2 linked regions of the Homo sapiens genome follow. The protein of the gene in region 1 interacts with the protein of each later gene in a pairwise test. Each region holds a gene or a part of one and is shown on either strand. Other genes may lie near its edges.

What was found. Proteins that work in one complex are often made in the same cells at the same time.
Region 2: the proteins of C5AR2 (region 1) and HAGHL interact in a two-hybrid assay, tested with the Homo sapiens proteins (one large-scale study listed by BioGRID and IntAct).

The regions. Positions count from the first base shown.
Region 1 is NC_000019.10:47,338,615-47,342,259, forward strand, and holds part of C5AR2 (C5a anaphylatoxin chemotactic receptor 2), read left to right. Parts: intron 1-1,872; exon of another isoform or gene 1,873-1,998; intron 1,999-2,170; 5' UTR 2,171-2,185; coding exon 2,186-3,199; 3' UTR 3,200-3,645.
Region 2 is NC_000016.10:725,551-729,295, reverse strand, and holds the start of HAGHL (hydroxyacylglutathione hydrolase-like protein), read right to left. Parts: upstream 2,191-3,745; 5' UTR 1,787-2,190; coding exon 1,682-1,786; intron 1,332-1,681; coding exon 1,267-1,331; intron 1,181-1,266; coding exon 1,063-1,180; intron 981-1,062; coding exon 872-980; intron 793-871; coding exon 692-792; intron 503-691; coding exon 401-502; coding exon of another isoform or gene 288-400; coding exon 208-287; coding exon of another isoform or gene 128-207; exon of another isoform or gene 9-127; coding exon 1-8. Other genes in the region: CCDC78 (coiled-coil domain-containing protein 78), read left to right, coding at 2,929-3,330, 3,416-3,745. UniProt on the Homo sapiens protein: Hydrolase acting on ester bonds.

The DNA.
Region 1 (3,645 bases):
AAGACCAGCATGGGCAACATGGTGAAACCAGATGACCTCCAAAATAATAATAATAATAATAATAATAATAATAATTAATCAGGCATGATGGTGTGCACCTGTAGTCCTAGCTACTTGGGAGGGTGAGGTGGAGGGTTGCTTGAGCCCAGGAGATGGAGGCTGCAGTGAGCTGGGAAAGTGCCGCTGCAGTCCAGTCTGGGCTACAGAGCCAGACCCTGTCTCAAAAAATAGTAATAATATAGTAATAATATTATTGTGGCCCGACATGGTGGCTCACGCCTGTAATCCCAGCACTTTGGGAGGCTGAGGCAGGTGGATCACCTGAGGTCAGGAGTTCGACACCAGCCTGGCTAACATGGTGAAACCCCATCTCTACTAAAAATACAAAAATTAGCCAGGTGTGGTGGCATGTACCTGTAATCTCAGCTACTTGGGAGGCTGAGGCAGGAGAATTGCTTGAACCCAGGAGGCGGAGGTTGCAGTGAGCCGAGATCATGCCACCACACTCCAGCCTGGGCAACAGAGCAAAACTCTGTCTCAAAAAAAATAAATTATTGCTATGATAGATTATGTCGCTTCCTTGCTCAGCACCCTCCTATAGCACCTGTCTCATTTGGAATAAATGATGATGTCCTTGCGTTGCCCACGTGGCCCTACATGCCGTGGCCCCTGATAACTGTTTTTCATTTGTTTTGTTTTGTTTTGTTTTTTTCTTTTTTTGAGATGGAGTCTTGCTCTGTTGCCCAGGCTGGAGTGCACTGGCATGATCTCAGCTCACAGCAACCTCCGCCTCCCTGGTTCAAGTGATCCCTCCTGCCTCAGCCTCCTGAGTAGCTGGGATTACAGGCGTCCACCATCACTCCAGGTTATTTTTGTGTTTTTAGGAGAGATGGGGTTTCACCATGTTGGCCAGGCTGGTCTCAAACTCCTGACCTCAGGTGATCCACCCACCTTGGCCTCCCAAATTCCCGTGATTACTGGCATGAGCCACTGTGCCCGGCCCCTGATGACTCTGCTATTGCCTCTCACCCTCTCCCTCTGGCAGATTCCACTCCAGCCACACTGGGCTCCTTGCTGTTCTTGGACATGACCGTCATGTTCCCACCTCAGGGCCTTTGCACTGGCTGTTCTCGATGCCTGAAACACTCTTCCCCCAGATCTCGATGCATCTCTCCCACTGTTCCTTCAGATTTTTATGCAAATGTCACCTTCTCAAGAAGCCTTCCCTGACCATGCCTGTACAACTCCAACATAGCCAGCTTCCCTGTGTGATATTTTTCCCATAGTATTTATTATCTTCTAAAATACTGTGGATTTTGGATTTTGCTCATTTCTTTCTTTCTTTTCCTATTTTTTTTTATTTTTTGAGACAGAGTCTCTCTCTGTCATCCTGGCTGGAGTGCAGGGGTATGATCAAGCTCACTCAATCTCCTGGGCTCAAATGATTCTCCCACTTCAGCCTTTTCGGCAGCTAGGATCACAGGCACGCATGACCATGCCTGGCTATGTTTTAAAAAATTTTCGTAGAGATGGGGTCTCCCTATGTTGCCCAGGCTGGTCTAGAACTCCTGACCTCAAGTGATCTTCCCACCTTGGCCTCTCAAATCGTTGGGATTACAGGCCTGAACCACCGTGCCCAGCCCCAATATTCCAATGTACTAGGGTTCTGGCATTGTAATATTCTAGAATTCCAAGATGCCACTTCTAACAACACTAAGTTCTAGAATTCCAATTTTTTTTTTTTTTTTTTGAGATGGAGTCTCACTCTGTCTCCCAGGCTGGAGTGCAGTGGTGTGAGCTCAGCTCACTGCCACCTCCACCTTCTGGGTTCAAGAAATTCTCAGCCTCCCAAGTAGCTGGGATTACAGGTGCCCGCCACCACACCCAGCTAATTTTTGTATTTTTAGTAGAGACGGTGTTTCACCATGTTGGCCTGTCTTGAATTCCTGACCTCAAGTGATCCACCTGTCTTGGCCTCCCAAAGTGTTAAGATTACAGGTGTGAGCCACCACACCCGGCCTAGAATTCCAATATTCTAAAGCACTGGAGTCCTTATGACGCAATATTCCAGTTTGCAAGGTGCTGGTGGGCCGGGCTGATGGACACCCTAGATCTCCAGGGCCATGGAGTTTCCTCCTCTGAGTTTTCATCGTCTTTCTCTCCTGCCCAGACACCAGGAGCCTGAATGGGGAACGATTCTGTCAGCTACGAGTATGGGGATTACAGCGACCTCTCGGACCGCCCTGTGGACTGCCTGGATGGCGCCTGCCTGGCCATCGACCCGCTGCGCGTGGCCCCGCTCCCACTGTATGCCGCCATCTTCCTGGTGGGGGTGCCGGGCAATGCCATGGTGGCCTGGGTGGCTGGGAAGGTGGCCCGCCGGAGGGTGGGTGCCACCTGGTTGCTCCACCTGGCCGTGGCGGATTTGCTGTGCTGTTTGTCTCTGCCCATCCTGGCAGTGCCCATTGCCCGTGGAGGCCACTGGCCGTATGGTGCAGTGGGCTGTCGGGCGCTGCCCTCCATCATCCTGCTGACCATGTATGCCAGCGTCCTGCTCCTGGCAGCTCTCAGTGCCGACCTCTGCTTCCTGGCTCTCGGGCCTGCCTGGTGGTCTACGGTTCAGCGGGCGTGCGGGGTGCAGGTGGCCTGTGGGGCAGCCTGGACACTGGCCTTGCTGCTCACCGTGCCCTCCGCCATCTACCGCCGGCTGCACCAGGAGCACTTCCCAGCCCGGCTGCAGTGTGTGGTGGACTACGGCGGCTCCTCCAGCACCGAGAATGCGGTGACTGCCATCCGGTTTCTTTTTGGCTTCCTGGGGCCCCTGGTGGCCGTGGCCAGCTGCCACAGTGCCCTCCTGTGCTGGGCAGCCCGACGCTGCCGGCCGCTGGGCACAGCCATTGTGGTGGGGTTTTTTGTCTGCTGGGCACCCTACCACCTGCTGGGGCTGGTGCTCACTGTGGCGGCCCCGAACTCCGCACTCCTGGCCAGGGCCCTGCGGGCTGAACCCCTCATCGTGGGCCTTGCCCTCGCTCACAGCTGCCTCAATCCCATGCTCTTCCTGTATTTTGGGAGGGCTCAACTCCGCCGGTCACTGCCAGCTGCCTGTCACTGGGCCCTGAGGGAGTCCCAGGGCCAGGACGAAAGTGTGGACAGCAAGAAATCCACCAGCCATGACCTGGTCTCGGAGATGGAGGTGTAGGCTGGAGAGACATTGTGGGTGTGTATCTTCTTATCTCATTTCACAAGACTGGCTTCAGGCATAGCTGGATCCAGGAGCTCAATGATGTCTTCATTTTATTCCTTCCTTCATTCAACAGATATCCATCATGCACTTGCTATGTGCAAGGCCTTTTTAGGCACTAGAGATATAGCAGTGACCAAAACAGACACAAATCCTGCCCTCAGGGAGCTGATATTCTTCTAGTGGAGGAAGACAGACTATAAACAAAGATATATAGGGCCATTTGCGGTGGCTCACGCCTGTAATTCCAGGGCTTTGGGAGGCTGAGGCAGGTAGATCACTTGAGGTCAGGACTTCAAGACCAGCCTAGCCAATATGGTGAAACCCTGTCTCTACTAAAAATACAAAAATTAGCCGGGCATGGTGGCGCATGCCTGTAGTCCCAGCTACTTGGGAGGCTGAGG
Region 2 (3,745 bases), on another chromosome or scaffold:
GCTCCTCTCTGCAGGGAGGGGTGCAGTGAGGCGCAGGGCCCGCTGCCCACGCGGGAGCATGGCGCCGAGGGGTGGGCGGGCAGGCAGGCACTTAATGAGCAGCCTCCCCCAAGCCAGAGATGCTCACTCAGCCCAACACGCAGTCCCCAGATGCCTTCCTAAGGGTCCACGTAACGGTGGAGGCCCCGGGACAACAGCCATACTCACGCCACCCGCAGGAAGGGGTTGTAGAGGCGCTCCTCGCCCAGAGTCGACGGCACAGTGGGCACGTCATCCTCATCCCTCTTCTGGAGTGACCACAGGCCCCGGTCACCATTAGGCCTTGTCTGAGAGCCCCCCCCACCCCGAAGCCTGTTCCCTCCCCCCCCACCCTCTTGCCGCGGCGGGAAAGGGGCCGTGCCTTAGCCCAGGACAGCTTGGCTCTCACGTGGTCGTTGCAGGGCTCCACTTTCTGGGCAAACTCCAGGTTGCTAAGCGTGTGCTCGTGGCCGCAGAACACCTTCTGGAGGAAGAGCGCTCGGTGAGCGCGCACGCGGCCAGGAAGCGGGGAAAGTGCTTGCGCCGGGGGCCTGGCCTCCCCTGCCCGGTCTGCCCTCAGGTGGGCATTCACTCTGCACCCCTAGCACAGTGAGGGTGCGGAGCGTGGGGGCTGTGCCCACGGGAGAAGAGGGGAGGGCCCAGGCCCGCTCACCGTCTCGGGGGGCAGGGTACCCAGCTCGGCCAGGCTCTGGTACATCTGCTGGGCGCTGCCCTCCAGGCACGAGCCGCAGCCGGCCACCGACAGCGCGTCGCCTGGCGGGGGAGGGCGGGTCAGAGCAGATGGGGCGGGGCCGGCGGGAGGCGGGGTGGGCGCGCTCCGCGCTGCGGGTACCCGAGAACAGGGCGGGTGGGTCCGGGCAATCGTCCTCCCACAGGAAGTAGCTCATGTGGCCGGCGGTGTGGCCGGGCGTCAGGAGGCAACGCACGTGGATGGCCCCGAACTGCGGCGGAGGAGCAGGCGGACCTGTGAGGGCGGGTGGACCCGGGGCGCCCTCCCCGCCCCTCCCGGGAGCGCGCGCTCACCCGCAGCTCCTCGCCGTGCGCCAGCCTGCGCGTCAGCGAGAAGATGCGCTCGTCCGCGCCCAGCACCGCCAGCCCGGGACGAAGCCGCGCCAGCTCCGGGTTTCCCCGCGCGTGGTCCCTGCGGGCGGGCGGGCGGGGGCCGGGTTAGGTCGGGTTGGGACAAGGCGGCGTCCTCGTGCCTCCCCGCGCCCCGCCGGCGCTCACCAGTGATGGTGGGTGGTCAGCACAGCGGTCAGAGACACCCCCTCCCGGCCCACGATCTCCAGCAGCTGAAAGGGACGGGAGTGACGGTAACACAGACGGTCCCGGTGGCCCACTCCCTCCATATCGGGATCCGCCGCGCTCACTGCCCCAGGCCGGCCAGAGCCCCGGGGAGCGCCGGGGAGCGGGGACCCAGCGGGCGGTGACTGCGCCCAGCGCGTGCAGGGACCGCCAGGCAGCAGCGAAAGGGCGGAGGCCAGAGGTGCCGTAACTTCAGGGAGCCCCAAGATAAACAAGGAACCCCAGCCGCCAATGACTTCCGGAGAGCAGAGCACGTGGGGGCTCGCTCCTACCAGGGGGGTCGGGGAGGCTCTCGGGGGACACGGCCGGGTCCCTGCGGCCCGCGGCCTGCCCTCACCCTCTTGGGCACAGCCACGTCCACGGCCACCGCCTCGCGCGTGAGCTCCTCGATGACCAGGTACATGTAGTTGTCCTCGAGCACGGGGATGACCTTGACCTTCATGGTCACGGAGCTCGGCCACCGGTGCCTGCTCCAAAACAGGCCCCCCAGCCCACGGTGCCCCTTCAGGGCGGGGCCCGCTCTCCACACCCTAGGAAGGGCTGTGCGAAGCGGGCTCGGTCAACACGCTGGGGGCCAAAAGAGAAGCCCGGCTCCCCAGGAACTCCCCGGCACTCGCGTGGAATTCCACGCACCGGGCTCCAGCAGGAGCGGAACCCGGCCGGTCCCCAACCAGCCCCGGCTCCGCCCCCAGTCCGAGCCCCAGTCCCCAAAGGCCACGCCTTCCTCCCAGGCCCCGCCCCTCGGCCCCCCGCCCTGCCGCCGCAAGACCCCTGACCCGGGACAGCCGCGTTCCCCCGCCGCCCGCCTCACCGGCACGGCTGTGCTGAGGACCCGAAGGACAGACTGACGGAGGCGGGGCCTCGGCCGCCGGTCACGGGGTCCGGACTGAGCGCGGCGCTGGGCTCGGGAGCCGCCAACCGCCCCCCTCCGCGGACGCGCCCCGCCCCCGCCCCCGCCCGGCCCGGATCCTGCGCGCGATGAGACCACAAGGCCCGCCGGCGGTGCGCGTGCCCGGTGGGGCGCCACGCGCACGCTCCGACCCCGCCGCGCCCGGCGCTGGCACCTCCTCCAGGAAGCCCTCCCGACGCCCCGGCTGAGCCAGTCGTTTCCGAGTTCTCCGGCCCCTGATGGGGACGTCTGCGCCCCTCTTCTCAGGCCAGAGGTGCAGAGATATACTTCCCCCGTCCCGGGGCTCAGCCAGCACTGCTAGGTACACAGAAGGTGTCCAGCGAGTGTAGCTCAGGGCATCCTGCGGGCGGGCTGCCGCTCCGTTCCGCGTGCTCGTCCGCTGCGCCCAGGCTGGGCGCTTTCACGCACCTGGTTCCATCTGCACAGGGTATGTGCAGGGGGCGCTGGGCCGCATTCCCCAGATGGGGAAACGGAGGCATGGAGAGAGGAAGAGCTATCCTCCCTCCTCAGCAACCACCGGTCTGGCCGGCCCCTGTGGGCGGTGCCCTGGGAGTCACCTGGGACCAACAGAGGCCTTGGCAACGCACTTAGCAGTGCCAGTGGCAGCAGCAGCCATGGGGAAGCCGGGCGTGGAGGCAGCACCGGGCTCGGAGCTGGCCAGGGTTCCCTAGCCTATGGAGCACGCAGCCACCACAGGCCCCAGGCCTGGACCTCCCTCTCGGCGGGTGGAGAATGTGAGTCCTCTGGGACTTGCCGCTCCTGCCATGGGGTTGAAGTCTGCCCGTTCCCCCAAAGGCCAGGAGGGTGCAGGTTCCTGCACCCTGGGCCTAATTTCAGCCAGGAGAGGGACTTTTACAGCTCAGCCAGGCAGGGAGGCGGGACTGGTGACTGCATGGGAGTGGGGCCACAGCCCAGCCTGGGACCCACCTGGGGAATGGGTGGCGGTACCTCCCCAGGTTGTGCTACGAGCCAAGGACTGGCTGCCAGGAGCTCCTGGGGGCACCGCAGTGTGGGCCACCAGCTTGGAAGCAGAGGTCCCACCAGATCTAGCGCTCAATAAGGAGCAGCAGCTGCAGGTGGGTGTGGGGCCCCAGCGTGCTCGTGAGGAGGGAGGGTGCCAGCAGGGCCCACAGACGCCACCTCTCACCTGGCCACCCACAGATCTCCAAGGAGCTGGTCGACATTCAGATCACAACCCACCACCTACATGAGCAGCATGAGGCTGAAATCTTCCAGCTGAAGAGTGAGGTGAGCAGCCGTGTGAACCAGCCTCAGTGCATGGGGGACGGGGGGTGCAGGCCCAGGACACGTGCCCTGCATGGGCATGCACACGCACATGGCATCTGTGGGTCTCAGCCTGCCTCTGAGTGCTGCGCGCCCCTGAGCGTGCACCGGGTGAATGTTCACCTACCCCAGGTGGCCCGCGGGCAGGTGCACCTGCTCATGCCAGTTGTCCCACAGATCCTTCGGCTGGAGAGCCGGGTACTGGAG